Regions from separate parts of the Homo sapiens genome. Here all the other regions are linked to region 1. The links come from fine-mapping of genetic effects on gene expression. A gene starts in region 1. Each other region holds a variant in brackets. All regions are shown on one strand. Distances are from middle to middle.

Region 1 (7,808 bases):
ACAGAACACCTTCAGGTTTTCATCTGTTTTTCCCAGATAGCACCAGTGAAAAAGATAATGAGTTTCCAGAAGACCACATAGCGTTGGCTTCCTGTACTCGCAGTCAGGGATCCCCAAAGGCTACAGCTTCAGAAGTTTCCAGAGCCAAATCTGGATGACTGAGTTCCAAGCACTGACTCACCCTTGCCTCCGCCTGCTCCCCTGTGAATCAGTGATCTACCTTTAAGGACTTCTCATCGTGTCTCTCATGACAGGCCTGTGAATTCCAGATGGTTCAACAGCTCATGAAAGCTCAGGGGCAGGATCTGGAAACAAGAGTAAGGAGAGGAGGTGAAGAAGTGTGCCAGGTACTGCCTGTTCCTTTGTCTGTCAAAAGTCTTTTCTTTTTTTTTCTTTTTTTTTTGAGACAGAATCTCACTCTGTCGCCCAGGCTGGAGTGCAGTGGTGCGATCTTGGCTCACTGCAACCTCCACCTCCCGGGTTCAAGCGATTCTCAGCCTCCCTAGTAGCTGGGATTACAGGTGCCCACCATTACACCTGGCTAATTTTTGTATTTTTAGTAGAGACAGGGTTTCACCACGTTGTCCAGGCTGGTCTTGAATTCCTGACCTCATGTGATCTGCCTGTCTTGGCCTCCCGAAGTGCTGGGATTACAGGTGTGAGCCACCGTGCCTGGCCAGAAATTTATGTGTTTTTCATTTACAGCACATCTCAATTTGGACCAGTCCCATTTCTTTTTCTTTTTTCTTTTTTTTTTTTTGAGACGGTCTGTTGCTCAGGCTGGAGTGTAGTGGCGAGATCTTGGCTCACTGCAACCTCCGCCTCCCGGGTTCAAGCAATTCTTCTGCCTCAGCCTCCTGATTAGCTGGGACTACAGGTGTGTACCACCACGCCCGGCTAATTTTTGTATTTTTAGTAGCGATGAGGTTTCACCATATCTGCCAGGCTGGTCTCGAACTCCTCACCTCGTGATCTGCCCCCCTCGGCCTCCCAAGGTGCTAGGATTACAGGTGTGAGCCATCGTTCCCGGCCTGGACCAGCCCCATTTCAAGGGCTCAGTGGCCCCATTGGAGCCACTAGACACGATTCTGGACGTCAGGCAGAGACCAATGTAGTTCCCCTGTCCATAGGGCGGAGCAAAGTGTGGAGGGGGGCCGGGCGGGGTGGCTCAGGCCTGTAATCCTAGCACTTTGGGAGGCTGAGGCGGGAGGATCACCTGAGGTCAGGAGTTCAAGACCAGCCTGGCCAACCATGGGGAAACCCCGTCTCTACTAAAAAAAATACAAAAATTAGTCGGGCGTGGTGGCGGGTGCCTGTAATCTCATCTACTTGGGAGGCTGAGGCATGAGAATCGCTTGAACCCGGGAGGCGGAGGTTGCGTGAGCCGTCATTGCGCCACTGCACTCCAGCTGGGGGACAGAACGAGATTGTTTCAAAAACAAAACAAAACAGAAAAACAAAGTGGGGCGGGGCTTTCATTAAAAACGGCAGTGAAGCCACCCCAGAATGGGGCTGGGGCTCAAGGTTCTTGCAGGTTGGGGGTTCCCAAATGGGGAGCTTTTCGCGACTCCGTTTCGCCTTTCCTTCCCTCCCACTCAAGAGTCTCCTCCCATAGTGACCTCCTCGCCAACCAGACTCCGCAGCCCGCGACCCCAGCCCCTAGCCCTCTCCTGCTGTTCCCGGTGTACCCCGGGGGCCGCCCACCTCAGAATTTACCCCTTCGGCGCCGCCTGTCATGTGGATGCTGCCTTGCCTGTCACTCAACTTCTTACCCCGCCCCCGCGTCTGGCCTAACCGTCGCTTACCTTGGTTTCCACAGCGACGCCATCAGGGGGCGTGGCAAAGGGACGCGCGGGGCAGAGACCTCCTTTGGATTGGTGGATGGTCAAGCCCCTTCTCTTTAGCCCCTCCTACAGGCGTTCCGCCCCCTTCGATTGGTCTCGCAAGTTGATTGGTCAATCCCCTGGTGCTAGTCCTAGTCTTGGTTCGGACCGGCCCCAAGGAGCAGGGGCGAACGTGGGCGCCTCGTGCCCTGATTGGCCGACGGGGCGCGCGCGGCCTGGAGGGGCGGGGCGGACGCAGAGCCGCGTTTAGTCTATCGCTGCGGTTGCGAGCGCTGTAGGGAGCCTGTGCTGTGCCGCGCAGTTAGGCAGCAGCAGCCGCGGAGCAGTAGCCGCCGTGGGAGGGAGCCATGAAGCATTACGAGGTAAGAAGCGAGAAACAGGGGCCGTGTGGCCACTGCTGACCCATTCTTTTTCCTTCTTTGCGGGACCACGGGACCCCACTTTCTGGTCCTGTGCCCCGAAGGAAGAGCCAGACGGCGCAGGCGCAGTGGGCAAGCGTTGCGCCCCGGGCCACTCGTAAATTCCAATGCGCATGTGCGCAGGAAGTATTTATAAATCTGCAACCCAGGCTGTTTTGGGGGTACTTTTTCTTGGGGGTCTCTGCAGGGGCTGGGACGCTTGCAGGTTCCTTGCAGCTCCCCCAGCGGGCTGAGTTGCAGACTTTGTCATGGGAGCCACGAAGGTGCGGGACCCTTGCTCCCAATCCGAGGGAGTCTTGCACAAATCTTGCGCCACGCCGCCGTCACCAGCGTAGGAAGGGGCTTTGCTATCAGTATTCTTGTGTACGACCTTTGGACCCCTTCCCTCGCCCGGGACGTTCCCGGGAGACTTAGGCGGTGAGGGAGGTGCAGCTCCACGGCTGGCTTTCGCAGAGCAGCGAAGCTGATCTTGCTTTCTGGTTATCAAAGAGGTCATCTACGTCAACCCTTGGGTGTCACCAAGGAGAAATCTTATACCCACCCACAGCCACTCTTGAAGCCCAAGTCTTCTGACTCCTAACTTGGGTCTCTTTTTCCCTTAAAACGAAGTCTTCTGATGTGCTTATCGCCCTAGGTGATAATATAATATTAATAATTCAACCAATTATCCCTGAATTATTGCTGACTTTTAAGTAACTATCATCAAATAATAAAATTTGTTATTAAAATTCAAAATAACAATTTAGCAAGTGCTTACTCTTGTGCTGGTGAGATTCTGTTACCTTGTATAAGAACTATTATTATTCCTGTTTGTAAGGATGAATAAAGTCTCAGAGATATAAAGTGACTTGTTCAAAGGCCCCTAGTTAGTAAATGCAAAACAGATAGGGGAACTCAGGACGCCAAGGTCTTAGTTCCTAGCCACTATGCCATGCTGGTCCTCAAATGAAAAATAGCAGGTCGAGCGATTTCTTGTTTCTCACTTCCCCTCCAATTTAAAAAATTCTGGCAAAATACACATAAAATTTACCATCTTGACTATTTTTAAGTGTGCAGTTCAGTGGCATTAAGAACATTCACATTGTTGTGCAACCATCACCACCACCCATCTCCAGAACTCTTTGCATCTTGGAAAACAGAAGCTGTAGACGTTAAATACTAACTCCCCATTCCTCTCCACCTCCACCTCTGGCAGCCACCATTCTACTCAGCCACCATTCCGTCTTAATGAATTGACTACTCTAGGTACCTTGGATACGTAGAAGGATTTTTTTTTTCTTTTGGAGACAGAGTTTCGGTCTTATTGCCCGGGCTGGAGTGCAATGGCGCGATCTCGGCCTACTGCAAACTCCGCCTCCTGGGTTTAAGCGATTCTCCTGCCTCAGCCTCCTGAATAGCTGGGATTACAGGTGACCGCCACCATGCCCGGCTAATTTTTTGTATTTTTAGTAGAGATGGGGGTTTCACCATGTTGACCAGGCTGGCCTCAAACTCTTGACCTCAAGTGATTTGCCCTCCTCGGCCTCCCAAAGTACTGGGATTACAGGTGTGAGCTAGTGCGCCCGGCTGTTTGTTTTTATTGACAAGTTGAATATTACTACCTCTGCCTCCTGCCCCCTTTATTGCTACTATTTTTGGAAATTTACCCACAATCCTTTGAAGCCTTTTTTTGAGACGGAGTTTCGCTCTTGTTGAGTACGCTGGAGTGCAATGGCGTGATCTTGGCTCACCGCAACCTCCACCTCCCGGGTTCAAGTGATTCTCCTGCCCCAGCCTCCTGAGTAGCCGGAATTACAGTCATGAGCCACCATGCCCGGCTAATTTTGTATTTTTAGTAGAGACAGGGTTTCTCCATGTTGGTCAGGCTGGTCTCGAACTCCCGACCTCAGGTGATCCACCCACCTTGGCCTCCCAGAGTGCTGGGATTACAGGCATGAGCCACGGTGCCTAGCCCCTTAGAAGCCTTTAACCCACAAATCCTGTAATTTTTGACATGGTATCAAGAATGAGGAGGTTTGTATTCAATAATCTCTGTCATTTAAGTTTTCATTCTAGAATGAAGTTCTGATGTGGATTCCCCTCTCAAACTCTATATCTAAACCTGTAGTCCCACTACTGTAGTCTCAGCTACTCGGGAGGCTGAAGCAGGAGGATGGCTTGAGCCCAGGAGGTTGAGGCTGCAGTGAGCCCAAAAATCAGGCCACTGCACTCCAGCCTGGGCAACAGAGACCCTGTTTGAAGAAAAAAAAAAAAAAAAAAAAAAGCTACCATGTCCAGCTTGAAACATGCAGTTTGGAACATCCATATGGCATTTTGCAAATGTAGTTGGTTTAGTTTTGCTAGTTAACAGTCAGATAAAGTAGGCCTCTGAGCACCCTGGGGGTGCGTGCTTTTGTTCCAGGAAGCTGGGCACAGCCTGAGGCCCAAGACTTGGACTGGAGAATATGCTCCACCGTACTTAATCCTTTTCTCTCCCAGAAAGAAGGGGGAGCTTTGGCCAGGCATGGTGGCTCACGCCTGTAATCCCAGCACTTTGGTAGGCTGAGGTGGCCGGATCGCTTGAGGTGAGGAGTTCAAGACCAGCCTGGCTAACATGGAGAAACCTTGTCTCTACTAAAAATACAAAAGTGAGCCGAGTGTTGTGGCACACGCCTGTAATCTCAGCTACTTGGAGGCAGAGGTTGCAGTGAGCTGAGATCATGCCACTGTACTCCAGCCTGGATGACAGAGCGAGAGTCTGTCTCAAAAAAAAAAAAAAAAAAAAAAAGGGAAGCTTCAAACTCACTGTTCAAAGTGACCTTGAAGGAAAAAATAAATTGTTATTTTGCTGTGTTGTTTGTTATTCTCTGCCAACCTTTGCCAAGTACCCATAGAGGCGATAGCTACAGGGCTTCTGGGTGGGAGAAGCAGTTGTTTCCCGGCCCAGCGGATTGCATAGCAAGCAGATTAGTTTAACTGCATGTGTGTATTGTAGGTCAGTAAAAATAGAAAGGATGCTTTCACTCACACTTAACAAGCAATTTGAGAAAAGGTTTGTCTACATCAAAGAATATATTTCTGGCCGGGCGAGGTGGCTCATGCCTGTAATCCCAGCACTTTGGGAGGCTGAGACGGGTGAATCACTTGAAGTCAGGAGTTCGAGACCAGCCTGGTCAACATGGTGAAACCTCGTCTCTACTAAAAACAAAAAAATTAGCTGGGTATGGTGGCACGTGCTTGTAGTCCCAGCTACTGGCTTCGAGGCTGAGGAATGAGAATCACTTGAAGCTGGGAGGCGGAGTTGCCATGAGCTGAGATCACGCCACTGTACTCCAGCCTGGGTGACAGAGCGAGACTCTGTTTTAAAAAAAATAAATAAAGGATATATTTCAGCTGGGCACAGTGGCTCATGCCTGTAATCCCAGCACTTTGGGACACCAAGGTGGGCAAATCATGTGAGGTCAGGAGTTTGAGACCAGCCTGGCCAACATGATGAAACTCCGTCTCTACAAAAAATAAAAAATTAGCTGGGTGTGGTGGCGCACGCCTGAAATCCCAGGTACTTGGGAGGCTGAGGCAGGAGAATCACTTCAACCTGGGAGGTGGAGGTTGCAGTGAGCTGAGATCGCACCACTGCACTCCAGCCTGGGTGACAAGAACGAGACTCTGTCTCAAAAAAAAAAAGAAAAAAATCTATTTCTGCTTGGGACTAAATCCATCTTCCCACCCTCAAGCAGTCTGTTGTCCACTGAAAGGTTGGCCCCTGGAGAGACCTTGGAGATTATGAAGTGCAGTTTACAACTGATAGAGGTAATGCCCAGAGGGGTGCAGGACGTGCTGACTGTCACGCAACAAATTAATGTCTGGTTGAGGACTGTTATCATGGCAGTTGGGATCCCAGCAGTAGTGGAGATCGGTGGCTGTTTCCATAGTAGCCTCATATCACTGCCAAATCTCATCTGATCTGAGAGGAAAAGTTTTCCACTCTGTGGCCTAATTGAGGTGAAGCCTCTCTCTAGAACGGGTCACCTCCAGGCCTTGGCTGAAGCCGTCTTCTTAGAATACCAGAGCAGGCCTTAGCATTGTCTTGGGGTCAGAGCTAGGTCGGTAAGCGAACTGCTTATCCTAGGATACAGTATTTTTTTAATGTATTTTTTTATTTTATTGCTGTTTTTGCCACTGCAGATGAGACTCAAAGCAATGAGCCCAGCAGCAACTGGAAAAACAGCTACTACATCTTGTAATTGAGCCTGTTAATTCCTGAGAAAATCAGTCTGTCTTCAGCCTCCAGCAGTCCAGGTCACTGCCCATTTCCCGCAGCTGAATACCCAGAAGCGAGCCTCTTGGGGTCCCCCATAACCCACATTTAGGGTGTTTTCTTTCTTTTTTTTTTTTTACACAGAGTCTCGCACTCTCGCCCAGGCTGGAGTGCAGTGGCTCCATCTTGGCTCACTGTAAGCTCCGCCTCCCGGGTTCACGCCATTCTCCTGCCTCAGCCTCCCGAGTAGCTGGAACTACAGGTGCCTGCCACCATGCCTGGCTAATTTTTTGTATTTTTAGTAGAGATGAGGTTTCACCGTGTTAGCCAGGATGGTCTCGATCTCCTGACCTTATGATCCGCCCGCCTCGGCCTCCCAGGGTGCTGGGATTACAGGAGTGAGCCACCATGCCTGGCCTTTTTTTTTTTTTTTTTTTTTTTTTTTTTTGTGACAGAGTCTCGCTCTGTCACCCAGGCTGGAGTGCAGTGATGTGATCTCACCTCACTGCAACCTCCACCTCCCCGGTTCAAGCGATTTTCCTGCCTCAGCCTCCCAAGTAGCTGTTATTACAGGTGGGTGCCACCATGCCCGGCTAATTTCTGTAGTTTTAGTAGAGATGGGGTTTCACCATGTTAGTCCAGGCTGGTCTCGAACTCCTGGGCTCAAGCGATCCTCCTGCCTTGGCATCCCAAAGTGCTGGGATTATAGGTGTGAGCCACCGCACCTTGCCCAGGGGTGAGTCTTATTAGCACCTGATCAGATGGGAACTACTGTTCTACTTTACAGATAATGCAACTGAAGCTCAGAGAGGTAAACTAAGCTGGTCAAGGTCACAGAGCCTGGAAGCCAGGGAGCTGAACCTGGGTTTGTCAGACTCCAGTTTTGTCCACACTGATGGCTTCTCTGCTGATGCTGCCCTAGGACAGCTGGTGGCTCTCCTGCTGTGTTCTGAGGACAGAGCATCCCTGAAGGGAGGGCGAGGTGCTGCGGGTCAGTGTGGACTGCTGGGAGAGGGTCTTTCTCTGCCCTAAAATCGGATGGGCTGCCCCTTGCAGTAAGGGCAGGATTGAGAGTGATGAGCCTTGCCTGGGTGCAGTGGTTCATGCCTGTAATCCCAGCACGTTGGGAGGCTGAGGCAGGAGGATCACCTGAGGTCAGGAGTTCAAGACTAGCCTGGCCAACATGGCGAAACCCCCTCTCCACTAAAAATATAAAAATTGGCCGGGTGCAGTGGCTCATGCCTGTAATCCCAGCACTTTGGGAGGCCGAGGTGGGTGAATCACGAGGCCAGGAGATCGAGACCATCC
Region 2 (5,000 bases), 230 kb after region 1:
CATGGAAACAGAAAGCAGATTAGCGGCTGCCATGGGTTGGAGGAAGGGAGGAATGAGGAGTGGTTGCTTACCATGTGCAGTGTTCACTTTTGGGCTGATGCAAGCATTTTAGAAATAGAGGTGACGGTTGTATAACTTTCTGAATATACTAGATTCTACCGAAACACACGCTTTTAAAATTTTTTCTTATTTTTATTTTTAATTTTAATTTTTTTGTTTGAGATGGAGTGGCACTCTGTCTCACGTAGTCTGGAGTGCAGTGGTGCAAACTTGGCTCACTGCAACCTCTGCCTCCCAAGCTCAAGTGATTCTCCTGCCTCAGCCTCTTGAGTAGCTAGGATTACAGGTGTGCACCACCACGCCTGTCTAATTTTTGTATTTTCAGTAGAGATGGGGTTTCACTATGTTGGCCAGGCTGGATTTGAACTCCTGACCTCAAGTGATCCACCCATTTCAGCCTCCCAAAGTGCTAGGATTACAGGTGTGAGCGCCTGGCATTACAGGCACGCCCCACGTGAAACAGACACTTTAAAGTGGTGAACTTGATGTTATGTGAATTTTATCTTAATAAAATTAATGCTATATGCATTTTCATGCTTTAAAAATTATTATGCAGGCCGGGCGTGGTGGCTCACGCCTGTAATCCCAGCACTTTGGGAAGCCGAGGCAAGTGGATTATGCACAAGGTCAGGAGATCGAGAGACCATCCTGGCTAACACGGTGCAACCCCGTCTCTACTAAAAATACAAAAAATTAGCTGGGCGTGGTGGCGGGCACCTGTAGTCCCAGCTACTCGGGAGGCTGAGACAGGAGAATGCTGTCAACCCAGGAGGCGGAGCTTGCAGTGAGCCGAGATCACGTCACTGCTCTCCAGCCTGGGCGACAGAGTGAGACTCTGTCTCAAAAAAACAAAACAAAACAAAACAAAACAAACAAAAACAAACAAGAAAGAAATCATACTTAGAGATCAAATGATATTAATTTATAGTATTCCAAATTAAATAAATTGTTCTCTTTTGAAGTGATTTCTATTTTGTTATTTTAAATTCTTCATCATAATTATTTACTGCTGATAATTCATATTACAATGAAAATGCATGTTATTTATGCATTTCTTTTTCCTTTCCTTTCCTTCTTTCTATTCTTCCTTCTTCCTCTACTCCTCTCCTCCTCCTCCTGTGCTCCTCCTCCTCTCCTCCTCTCCTCCGCTCTTTCTCGTCTCCTCCTCCTCTCCTCCTTCTCTTCTCCTCCTCTTCTCCTTCTCCTCCTCCTATCTTCCTCTGCCTCCTCTCCTCCTCCATTCCTCCTCCTTCTCCTCTCCTCCTCCTCCTCTCCTCCTCCTTTTCTCCTCCTCCTCTCTTTCTCCATTCCTCCTCTTCCTCCTCTCCTCCTCCTTCTCTCCTCCTCCTCTCCTCCCCATCCTGTCCTCCTCCTCCCGTCCTCTTCCTCTTGTCCTCCTCCTCCCATCCTCTTTCCTCCTCTTCCTCCTCCCCTCCTCTCCTCCTGTCCTCCTCCTTCTGTCCTCCCCCTCCTGCCCTCTTCCTCCTTTTTCTTCCTCTTTATCCTCCTCCTCCTCTTCACCTCCTCCTCCTTCTCTTCTTCTTCTTCTTCCTCCTCCTCCTCTTCGTCTTCTCTTTTTTGAGATGGGGTCTTGCCCTGTGAACCAGGCTGGAGTACAGTGATGCAATCATAGTTCACTGCAGACTCAACCTCCTGGGCTCAAGCGATCCTCTCACCTCAGCCTCCCAACTAGCTGGGGCCACAGTTGTGCCATCACATCTGTCTAATTTAAAAGATTTTTTTTTTTTTGTAGAGATTGAGTATTGCCATCTTGTCCAGACTGGTATGTATTTCTTTTTAATCTCTTATTTTAGTTTGTCGATGAGAGTAACACTGATATACAGGTGTGGTCACTTGGCTCTGGTGGGACTGGGAAAGGAAGGAGACAGAAAACATGCAGAGCTGGAGTCTGGGGCAGACCCAGGGACCTACCTGTGCCTGCAGGATAACTGAAGTTCAACAGCCCATTGGAAAGGTTCTTGCTCAGGCCTCTGAGGACATCCTCTAGGCCATCCAGCAGGTGACTGGCCACACAGTGCTGCTGTAAGCGGGGCAGGGTCTCCAGGTCCCCAGGGGCCTCCAGCAGCTCATCCAGCGCCTGTAAGATGCTCTGGAGGGATGTGGACACAGACCTAGTGAGCCATGGGCCAGAGGGCCCGCATGAAGACTCCAACCGCTCAGCCCCAGGGAACAGATCCTAGAGACTGTCTATCTGGGGGATGAAGATGGCATTGGCGGCTGGGCGCGGTGGCTCACGCCTCTAATTCCAGCACTTTGGGAGGCCGATGAGGGTGGGTCACAAGGTCAGGAGATCGAGACCATCCTGGCCAACATGGTGAAACCCCGTCTCTACTAAAAATACAAAAATTAGCCGGGCGTGGTGGCGTGTGCCTGTAATCCTAGCTACTCAGGGGGCTGAGGGAGGAGAATCGCTTGAACCCGGGAGGCAGAGACTGCAGTGAGCTGAGATCGGGCCACTAAACTCTGGACTGGCGACAGAGTGAGACTCCGTCTAAAAAAAAAATGACATTGGATGGGATTCCCTAGGTGATCCTTGACTCTGGTTATGGCCCCTCAGAGGCCAACACTTCTGTGCAATATCAA[T/C]GCTGACCTAAACCCAAAGTCCAGGGAAAGCAAGAGGAAAGATATTAAGTGCACTTGGGTGTCCATTAGCTTCCACCAGCCCTGAAAGATGCTGGGAGTCAGACCAGCACCCACTGCATTGGGTCCTGTCCCCTCCCAGACCCAAACTGCCCCAGGCCTCTGTGGGATGCAGCCACCTTCCTGCCTCGCCCCCTTGCCCTGGGTCCTGTCCTTACCTGGATGGTGTTATTGGCCAAGCCTGGCTTGTAGTCTCTGCCCAGGTCCTGGACTTTGTCGAAGAATCGGGAAAGCGTCTGCAGAGAGAGGAGATGTGGGGGTCAGAGAGCCTGGACGGCGGGTGGGAAGTTTAGAACAAGGAGACGGATGCAGTGCTGTGTGGATGGAGTTCCCGCCGCCTCGTCCCTGTGGGGGCCACTCACCTGGCTGTGGACTCCAGGGGGCGGGGTCCAGGTGGAGAAAGTCATATCTGTAGGGAACAAGACAAGCGGCTCATTAGGCGGGAGCGTGTCAGTGTGTGTGCTGGGGGTGGGGAGCTTCTAGGGCCAGGTCATACCTTCACAGACAGTGTCCTTTTGGTTATTCGGGATTCCGTGTCTGGGCTTCCAGCCTGGGCGGCAGCGGCAGCTGTATGAACCCACGGTGTTGAAGCAGACGGTGGAGCTGTCACACTGATGCTGCCCGGAGCTGCACTCGTCCACATCTGAGGACAGGAAGAAGGGGGTCAGGTCCTGTCCCAGCCTGGAGAGGGTCCTGTCTCCTGTCTGTGCCCCCAGCTCGTTCCTCCCGGCATTAGTGCCCCCCTTGGAGAGGTGGACGCTGGGTTATGGAAGCGTGGAGAGGCCTGGGCACAGCAGGTGGGCCCCGTGCAGATGAGCAGGTTATGAATATGGTGAAACGCCTTCCTCCCAGTGAGTCATCAGCTGTTGCCTGGGGTCCCCCTGAGCCTCCCCCCTCAGTACCCCAGCTCCTTCCGCAGGACCCTTGCTCTTTTCTCATCTAGCCTCAGAAGAATGAACGCCTGACACAGTCGGGCGCCTCCAGCGCTCATTCTGCTTGGTTTGTGTGGGCGCCGTTGAACATGTGATCAGATGTTTGTGGGTCTCTGGGAACGTGGGATCTGAGCTCTCGACCTTCACAGACGGTATTGTTTGGGCCATTGGGGGACCCCGGAATCGGTTGCCAGCCCGGGCGGCAGCGGCACTGATAGCTGCCCACGTTGTTGAGGCAGTGGGTGGAGCTGTGGCATGGGTTTTGTCCGGAGGTGCATTCATTCACATCTGAGGACAAAGCCAGAGGGTCAAACCCTGTCCCTGACCAGCCTGGGCCTGCCCTCCACTCACTGCACCCACTCCCCTATCTTTTCATTGCCTCAGACTGAAGACCATTATTGCACGTGCCACCACTTGGTGACCTTCAACTTCACCTTCAAAGCATCTTATGATGGTCTTCCTACCAGATGGGCACAGCAGGGACCATGGTCCCCAGTTTATAGGAGGTGAAACCAAAAGGGAAACTGAGTCATGGGAGCTGGACTTTCTGACTAAAATCTCTCTCCTGCTCCCTCCCTCACTATGGTGGAGGTTCCCCTTCTTAGAACTGGAAGTGACACCTTCTTCCACTCGCACGTGACAGATGAGGAAGGGGTGAGGTCTGGGGGCCCACAAGGGCACTCCAAGCCCTGAAGGCCCTGCCGCCTCCCTGCCGTGTGGCGAGTCCTTCCTGGGAGGTGAATCCTTAGGCAGGGGCTTAGCAGGTCCTTGACCTTGTGGGAACCTGCGGATCTTCTCCCTCCTCCTCGGCTGCTTTGGAGGACCTGACTCAGCTCCATCCCCAGCTCCCGTCCAGCCTCACAGCGTCTTCCTGGGGCCTCTACCTGTGCAGAGCTTCGGGTCCTCAGGTTTGAGCTTGAAGCCAGGCAGGCACTGGCACGTGTAGCTGCCGAGGGTGTTGACGCAGGTGCCGTAGCTTTTACAGAGCCTTGGGTTCTGCTGACATTCGTCCACATCTGCAAGAGGAAGGAGAGGGTGAAGAATGCCCGTAGCTGTGAGCAGCTTTCGGGGCTGAGGGTCCGCCATGTTTCCTGGCACGGAAGCATCTGGAAGGCACCACTGTCTGCTCCCTTTTCTTTTCTTTCTTTCTTTTTTTTTTTTTTGAGACGGAGTCTTGCTCTGTCACCCAGGCTGGAGTGCAATTGCCTGATCTCAACTCACTGCAACCTCCGCCTCCCGGGTTCACGCCATTCTCCTGCCTCAGCCTCCCGAATAGCTGGGACTACAGGCGCCCGCCACCATGCCCGGCTAATTTTTTGTATTTTTAGTATTAGACGGGGTTTCACC
Region 3 (7,808 bases), 34 kb after region 1:
CTCAGAAGGGGAAATGGATGATCTGTCTCGCGGATTCTCAAAATAGCTGGGATTTCTCCAAGCCCAGTGAACTCCCTAGGCCTGAGCTGCGGGCTGGGGCCTGCACGGCCCGCTGGCCTCTCACTCTCCTCTAGCCACTGGCTCTGTGCAGGGCGGGGGCTGGGAGGTGTTGTCATGCCTGCCCCTGGGGCTTTCCCTGTGCTGGTGCCGTTGAGGGTTTTGAGGTGACCACTCAAAAGCTGCTTTCAGGGCAGCCTGGCTCCCCGGGGAGACTCCCAAGCCCCCCTCAGAGAAGGTCTGTGGCATGGCTCCTGGGGGGCGCAGTCTGGGGTGGTTTTATATTTAGCTGGGCTGTGGCTGTGGTTGCCACTCGGGTTACATCTGGCACAGAAGTCGGCAGTGCCAGGGCCGGCACGGGCTCCTTTCCAGCACCGCGGCAGAATTTGATCGCGCTTGCCCGGCCCAGGGCTGCTTCCCGTGGGGAGGTCGGTGGTGGGGGCTGACGGCCGGCAGCTGGGGCTGCTGGCCACCGTGGGCAGAGCCGAGTGGCAGGGCTGGTGGCAGGCGGCATGGACTTGAACTTGAGCTTGTTGGCCCGGGAGGCCACCCCAGGCCTCCTCCCTGGCCTCAATGGGCTCCCCAGGCCCACACCCCCAAAGGTGGCCAAGAAACCTAAAAAGGCTGTTCTCTTCTTCGAGGTGGAGATTCTGGACGCAAAGACAAGGGAGAAGCTGTGTTTCTTGGACAAGGTAGGACTGGGGCGTGGGCTGCACTGGGCCAAGGGCACTGGGCCCGGGACCCCAATCCTTATAGCCCAGGAGCTGTCCAGTGGGGCCCTTTGTGCCCCACCCCCTGCCCTATGGAGGGGTATGCCCTCACTTGGGGTAGGGTGGATAGCCATGTCCCCTGGGTGTGGCGGGGAAATGGAGGCACAGGAGTCTCAGTGGACCCTGCGGGGATTTTGGTCCTGGGAGGGCGGTGGAGGAGTGAGCCTTGCCCCTGCTGAGGCCGGGCCTGGGGGAAGGGGCTTGCGCTGTCCCTGGGGAGGACAGAGGGCCTTTGCTCCTGGGAGAGTCATGGGTGAGAAGTGGAGAGGAGGGGCAGAGAAGCAGGCTTGCCTTCCCATGCTTAATCCGCCACTAGCCGGGCTGGGGGCCTGCTGGCTGAGGGTAAAAGTGGAGCCCCAGACCCCTGCTGTCACTGCACTGGCAGGGCCCTCGGTGGTCCTTCCCTGACTGCAGGCAGAGGCCTGGACCCCAGCCCTTCCCCCTTCCCATAGCTACAGCCCAACCCCCAGCCTGCCATCCCCTTTAGTACCTCCCCATCCTGAGTCTGGGCTCCCCGCAGAGCTGACGTCCCTGCGCCTGTGCTTCCCCCAGGTGGAGCCCCACGCCACCATTGCGGAGATCAAGAACCTCTTCACTAAGACCCGTGAGTTCTAGTCCCGGCCACACTGCCCCTGCAACCCCTTTGACCAGGGACCTTAGGGTGGGAGGGATCCCATCCTGCACCCCTCTCCCAGGGGCCTGCAGAGATGCCCCAGTGTGGCCCAGGCTTCTGGGGCGTGACTGGGGCAGGCGCCTCCACGTGGCACTCCGCAGGAACGCCCTTGCTAGGCTCTGGGAAGGACAAGATCCTGCTTCTGCCCGCGCTCTTCTGGCTTGTGTCCTGAAACCGCACAAGCCTGAGGGTTTGCCCCCAGGTGGGAGGAGCTGTGGAGTCCTGGGGTCCTTGCACCCTGGGAACCCTGAGAAGCTGGCACAGTGGCTGGGCAGCGGACCGGCTGAGCCCTGCCAGGCTGTGGGCTGTAACTGCCCTGTTCTCCCCGCAGATCCGCAGTGGTACCCCGCCCGCCAGTCCCTCCGCCTGGACCCCAGTGAGTACAGCTGTCCACTCGGCCCGCCCCCTGGGCTCCTGGGTGGCAGTGGGAGAAGGCCCGGGTAGCCCCTGAGCCCTGGCCCGCCTCTCTGCAGAGGGCAAGTCCCTGAAGGATGAGGATGTTCTGCAGAAGCTGCCCGTGGGCACCACGGCCACACTGTACTTCCGGGACCTGGGGGCCCAGATCAGCTGGGTGACGGTGAGTCCTGACCCTACCCACGGCCTCTTTTCCCGTCAGCCACGTTGGGTGACTCATCTTGCCCCCCTCTACTCTCAGGTCTTCCTAACAGAGTACGCGGGGCCCCTTTTCATCTACCTGCTCTTCTACTTCCGAGTGCCCTTCATCTATGGCCACAAATATGACTTTACGTCCAGTCGGCATACAGTGGTGCAGTAAGTGGGGCAGGTGGGAGGAGGGTAGGGGAAGGCAGAAGACCTGCCGGACCAGCCCCAGCTGAGCCTGCTCCCCCCGACCAGCCTCGCCTGCATCTGTCACTCATTCCACTACATCAAGCGCCTGCTGGAGACGCTCTTCGTGCACCGCTTCTCCCATGGCACTATGCCTTTGCGCAACATCTTCAAGGTGAGAGCCCGTCCCCGCCTCACCCCTAAGCCCCGCCTTTCTGCCCCACCCCGCCCCGCCCCCACCGAGCCCCACCCCAAGGCCCTTCCTGTCTGCCACTACGCCCCAGCAGAGCCCTACCCCTAGGCCCCGCCTAACCTCCCCAGCCCCGCCCTCGCAGAGCCTCTAGACCCCGCCCGTCCTCCCCAGCCCCGCCCCCGTCGGGCCCCTAGGCCTGCCTATCCACCCTAGTCCCACCCCTAGGCACCGCCTATCCCCCCAGCCCCGCCCCTGCAGAGCCCCGCCCCAGTTTCACCCCTAGGCCCCTCCTGTCCACCACGCCCTCACAGAGCCCTGCCCTAGCCTCACCCCTTGGCCCCGCCTATCCTCCCCAGCCCCGCCCCAAGGCCCCTCCTGTCCTTTCCCACCATGCTCCCAGGCCCCTCGGGATGAGACATGGGCAGCATCTGCCTTGTCCGGTGCTGGCCCAAGTCCCATCCCTGCCCTGCTCCCTTTCAGAACTGCACCTACTACTGGGGCTTCGCCGCGTGGATGGCCTATTACATCAATCACCCTCTCTACACTCCCCCTAGTAAGTGGCCTCAGACCATCCTTCCCTCCCCCACGGTCCCCACCCAGCGGGTCCTCCCCTCATGGGCTCCCCTCCCTGCTTCCTCTTCAGCCTACGGAGCTCAGCAGGTGAAACTGGCGCTCGCCATCTTTGTGGTAAGGAGGCTGGGTGTGGGGACGGGGTCGGGGGAGTCTGGGCGGCCCTAGGCTGATCCTGCTTCTCTGACAGATCTGCCAGCTCGGCAACTTCTCCATCCACATGGCCCTGCGGGACCTGCGGCCCGCTGGTGAGTGCCTGCTGGGGGCAGGGGGACAGCTGGGCTGGGTGAGGGGGTCTGACTTTCTCCTTCTGTCCTGCCTGCCAGGGTCCAAGACGCGGAAGATCCCATACCCCACCAAGAACCCCTTCACGTGGCTCTTCCTGCTGGTGTCCTGCCCCAACTACACCTACGAGGTGAGGGGCTGCCTTACCCCTCTCTGCCCTGGGACTTGGGGTCCCATGTGGAGGGACCAGCCCCTAGGATGGGGCGCCTGGCTGGGCAGCTGCTTTTGCCGCCTGCACTGCGAGCATTGGGAGGTGGAGACCGCGGCCTCTCTGCTGTGGTGGCGGGGAGGCGTGTGCCGCTGGGCTTCCGCCGTATACAGCCCCGCCTCCGCTGGAATTGGGTTCCCATCCCTGACTCAGAAAGCAGGGGCGGCGGGAGGTGGCTGGCTGAGTCCAGGACAGCCACATACACGGGTTGCGAGGCTGCCCACGCTCACTCTCCGCCCCTGCCCACAGGTGGGGTCCTGGATCGGTTTCGCCATCATGACGCAGTGTCTCCCAGGTGAGCCTGCCGCCCTCCCTCGGCGGGGCCCTGCCCCTCCGGGCCGGCAGCCCCTCCCTGACGCCCGTTCTTTCCTGCAGTGGCCCTGTTCTCCCTGGTGGG[C/T]TTCACCCAGATGACCATCTGGGCCAAGGGCAAGCACCGCAGCTACCTGAAGGAGTTCCGGGACTACCCGCCCCTGCGCATGCCCATCATCCCCTTCCTGCTCTGAGCGCTCACCCCTGCTGAGGCTCAGCCCCTCAACCCGGTGGCATTCTGGGGGAGGAGTGGGGCCCACAGCTCTCCAGCACCCGGAATAAAGCCCGCCTGCCCCAGTCGGACTCGGGCTCTGTGTGTTTCTTTCCGGGGTTGGGGACCACCACACTGCCCTTCACTCTCTCCCCACTCTCGCGTCGGAGCAGTAAGAGGGGACTCTGGTTGAGGGGCCTGAAGGCTTTTATTTGACTGGTCCATAGGGTGGGGGGTGCACCCCCTACAGGGCCACCTTGGGGTCCACTTCCCCGGGTCCCTGGCCTTTGGCCAACTCTGCCGCCTTCTTCTCCCGCCGCTTCTTCCGCTGGAGCAGCCTCCGCTCCCGCTCAAACTCCTTCATGCGCATCACATAGCTGGGGGAAAAGCACGAGAGGGGCTGTCAGGGTCCCTGGCCAGGACACGCCCCCCAAGCCCTGGGAAGCGGAGGGGCCGTCCCAGAGCACTGTGGGGGAGGCCTCTGAAGAAGACATGTCCGAGTGCCTGTGGCTTGGGTCTGGGGTCTGCCCACGCAGGTGGCAGGGCTTCCCACTGGAACCTGGGCTTGGCCACTCCCCTAGGTGGCTTCAGCCACCTGCCCTGTCCCCATCAAACAGGCCCCTAGAGAGCCCTCTCTGGGACTAAGGTGGGGCCCGGCTAGAAACCTCAGTGGCAGTTCAGGTCCCTGGCCTCTGGAGCCACATCCTGCCAGGGGCCAGGCCTGGGTGGGGTGCAGGCTGTGGGTGTTGGCGGGGGTGGGAGGGGGGCTTGGGCGGGCTGGGCATGTGGGGGGCTTGGGTGGGCCAGGGGTGTGGAAGGCTGGGGGTATGGGGTGTTGCGGGCCGGGGTGTTGGGGGCTGGTGTGGGGGTGCTCACTCGCGGTGCTCGCAGTAGTCCCAGTCGTGCCGCTCCTGCTTGCAGGCCAGGAAGTTGGGGAAGCTGTCACGCTTGCACTTGAGCAGCCGGATGAGGTGGTGGGCGCAGTAGTCCCGCAGCTGGAGCCTCAGCTGCGCGTCCATCATCTCCTGCTGTGTGGCCACCATCTCTGCAGGGAGTGGGCGGGGCTCAACCAGGCTGGAGGCTCCCCACCCCAATTCCGGGGATCCCCAGGGGACCGAGGCACACGGCTTCAGGAAGGCACGGCTTGGGGTGTCCCCCATTCACATCCAGATGGCAGTGGATGGCAGATGCCTTTGACGGATGCACTGTCCTGAAGGGGCCTCCTTTTCTAATTTGCACAAAGGCAACTCCAGACACCAAGGGCCAGACAGGAGAAGGTGGCTCCCCATCACCCTGAGGCACCTCAACATCCCGTGCCGGATCCTTGCCTCCCCTCCCACAGGGATGCCCGTCCCCAGCTCTCTACAGCCCCGCTCTCCAGAGTCCGAGTTCAGAATCCACCTTCTCCCAGAGTAACCCTCAGCCCCTCCACCTGCACCTGGGGCTCCAGGCAGCACTCCCAGCCTTTCTTGTCTGCAACCCACCCAAGGCCCAGCTCTGCACTGGCCGGCGGCGTGGCCTCTCTCTCAGCCTCAGAACTGACCATCCGGTCATGGAAGTTACCCGAGCATCCACTGAGCTAACAGTACCTGTAAGGTACTTAGGCGTGGGCTCAGAAGACAGCTGGACTAGTATCTGGGTCCCGGTGCCCCACTCACCTAGCAAACCTGACTCCGGACAAATCAACCTTCAGGAGGGGGCCGATGGGAGCATGAGGAATCCTGGACACTCACCCCGGAGCCTGTGCCTGGCGATCCTGCACTCGTTCCCCACCGCCTCCCTCAGACCCAGCCTCCCTAGCCCTCCTGACGTCCACCACATCTTTCTCGGTCCCAGCTCCTTCCCATCTGCGCAAGTGAGACGAGATATATTCACATCTCAATGGCAGTCGTCCCCTGCTGGCTTCTCTCCCCTTTGCTTCCCAGCTGCGATTCTCTCATCCCACTGAGGCCCAGGTCCTCCTCTCCTGCCCCTTGTCCCATTCCCTGGCTTCTGCCCTACCCCCTCACTGCCCAGACACGGGCTCTCACAGGGCCACCCAACAGCCCAGGACCCCAGCCTCCCGCTTCCTTCTTTCCTGTGGCTCCTCCCACATCCCTCCTCCCCAGGTTTCCTCCCATCTCTATGGCTGCCTTACCTTACGCTTTGTTCTGGGAGCCTTTTTCTTTTCTTTTGAGATGGAGTCTCACTCTGTCACCCAGGCTGGAGGGCAGTGGCAAGATCTCAGCTCACTGCAACCCCTGTCTCCCAGGTTCAAGCAATTCTCCTGCCTCAGCTTCCTGAGTAGCTGGAACTACAGGCGCCTGCCACCATGCCCGACTAATTTTTGTATTTTTAGTAGAGATGGGGTTTCGCCATGTTAGTCAGGCTGGTCTTGAACTCCTGACCTCAGGTGATCCACCCACCTTGGCCTCCCAAAGTGCTGGGATTACAGGTGTGAGCCACTGTGCCCGGCCTGAGAGCCTTTTTCTCTGCTGCCGCCCCGTATGTAGATGAGCCCGATGTGGTCCCTCCACCCCACACCTCGCTTGAGCCCCAGGCCTGGGTATCACCTGCAGCCCCTGGCTGTTCCCTATCTGCACTTGGAGCTCCAGGTGGCAATCCTAGACTCCTCCCTCTTTTGTCTTGAACTTATAATCAGCTAGCAGCAAGGACTTTAGACTGCCTACTGTGTGCTTAGTGGTGGGGATACAGCAGGCAACACAACACACAAGTGTCCCTGCCCTCAGAGGGAGACACAGAACAGACAGAAGACAGAGCACCACAGCGTGTCTGGCAGTGCTTAAGTATTAGGGAGACCAGCCTGGGGAGCACAGAAAGATCCCATGTCCAGAAAAAAATAAAATTATCTTTGCACGGTAGTGCACACGGAGTATCCAGAGCTACTCGGGAGGATCGCTTGAACCCAGGAGTTTGAGGCTGCAGTGGGTGATAACCACCCCACTGCACTCCAGCCTAAGCAACAGAGCGAGAGCCCATCTCTACAAACAAATAAATAAATATGGGCCAGGCGCGGTGGCTCACGCCTGTAAACCCAGCACTTTGGGAGGCCGAGGCAGGTGGATCACTTGAGGTCAGAAGTTCGAGATCAGCCTGGCCAACATGGTAAAACCCTGTCTCTACTAAAAATACAAAAATGAGTCAGGTGTGGTGGCACGCACCTGTAATCCCAGCTACTCGGGAGGCTGAGGCGGGAGAATCGCTTGAACCGGGAAGGCAGATGTTGCAGTGAGCAAAGTGACTGGCTGAAAGGGGGTGGAAAGGAGGAAAGAGAGGGCAGGGGACAGTGATCTAGGAGGGAGGGAGAGAGTGAAGGATCCGGGAGGTAAGAGAAAGGCCAGGCACCATAAAGAGTCCACTGGAGTACCAATCGGGAGACCGGTCAGCAGGGACTGCAGGAATGCGCCACCACACCCAGCTAATTAAAAAATAAAAATAAAAAATTGTAGAGACAGGGCCTTGCTATGTTGCCCAGGCTGTTCTTGAACTTCTGGCCTTGAGCAATCCTCCTGCCTTTGCCTCCCAAACCGTTGGGATTACAGGCATGAGCCATTTTGCCTGGCTTAGAGCTGTTTTTTTCTTATCTCCCCGCCCCCCATTATGTTCAGTTGCACGGGGATAGGCACCAAGGAAGGGAAAGAGGTGAGTTTATCCAGAGTAAGCAAGAGAGAAGGGCAGCAGGTTGCTAGCGTTTGCAAAGCTGATCTTGGGGAAAGCAAGGTATGTGAGGCAGTGGGAGGAAGGTG

Which allele goes with the higher level. Positions count from the first base shown, and alleles are read on the strand shown. Sizes are in standard deviations (SD) of each study's normalised expression. Not every link is listed here.
For the expression in monocytes after interferon gamma of the gene that starts at base 2,089 in region 1, C is the high allele of the variant in region 3 and T is the other (moderate effect, 0.69 SD a copy in Fairfax 2014).

Evidence for each region. PIP is the estimated chance that this variant, and not a neighbour inherited with it, causes the effect.
Region 2: its variant is the best candidate, but not a certain one, in a credible set for the expression of TECR in nasal epithelium (TOPMed, PIP 0.67).
Region 3: its variant is the best candidate, but not a certain one, in a credible set for the expression of TECR in monocytes after interferon gamma (Fairfax 2014, PIP 0.89).

What each region holds. Positions count from the first base shown.
Region 1 is chr19:14,527,506-14,535,313 of GRCh38, forward strand. TECR (trans-2,3-enoyl-CoA reductase) reads left to right here and starts at 2,089. Exons shown (of 13, transcript NM_138501.6): 1 at 2,089-2,206. The coding sequence starts at 2,192. It overlaps MIR639 (microRNA 639), which reads left to right and starts at 2,038; the gene lies at 2,038-2,135. It also overlaps a transcript of DNAJB1 not described here. RefSeq lists enhancers at 1,833-2,417, 2,781-2,840 and a silencer at 1,891-2,180.
Region 2 is chr19:14,762,441-14,767,440 of GRCh38, forward strand. ADGRE2 (adhesion G protein-coupled receptor E2) reads right to left here. Exons shown (of 21, transcript NM_013447.4): 6 at 4,538-4,669; 7 at 3,795-3,941; 8 at 3,218-3,364; 9 at 3,084-3,130; 10 at 2,880-2,957; 11 at 1,993-2,170. Among named protein-coding and RNA genes, the nearest start is that of ADGRE2, 14 kb to the right of the region's middle. The variant T/C (reference allele first, on the strand shown) is at 2,665.
Region 3 is chr19:14,561,827-14,569,634 of GRCh38, forward strand. It overlaps TECR (trans-2,3-enoyl-CoA reductase), which reads left to right. Exons shown (of 13, transcript NM_138501.6): 2 at 699-749; 3 at 1,380-1,431; 4 at 1,832-1,876; 5 at 1,974-2,077; 6 at 2,156-2,271; 7 at 2,356-2,461; 8 at 2,960-3,032; 9 at 3,123-3,166; 10 at 3,240-3,297; 11 at 3,376-3,464; 12 at 3,792-3,837; 13 at 3,918-4,154. The coding sequence ends at 4,045. It overlaps NDUFB7 (NADH:ubiquinone oxidoreductase subunit B7), which reads right to left. Exons shown (of 3, transcript NM_004146.6): 2 at 4,939-5,107; 3 at 4,252-4,439. The coding sequence ends at 4,307. Among named protein-coding and RNA genes, the nearest start is that of NDUFB7, 6.3 kb to the right of the region's middle. RefSeq lists enhancers at 1,017-1,824, 3,441-4,247 and a silencer at 2,714-2,863. The variant C/T (reference allele first, on the strand shown) is at 3,940.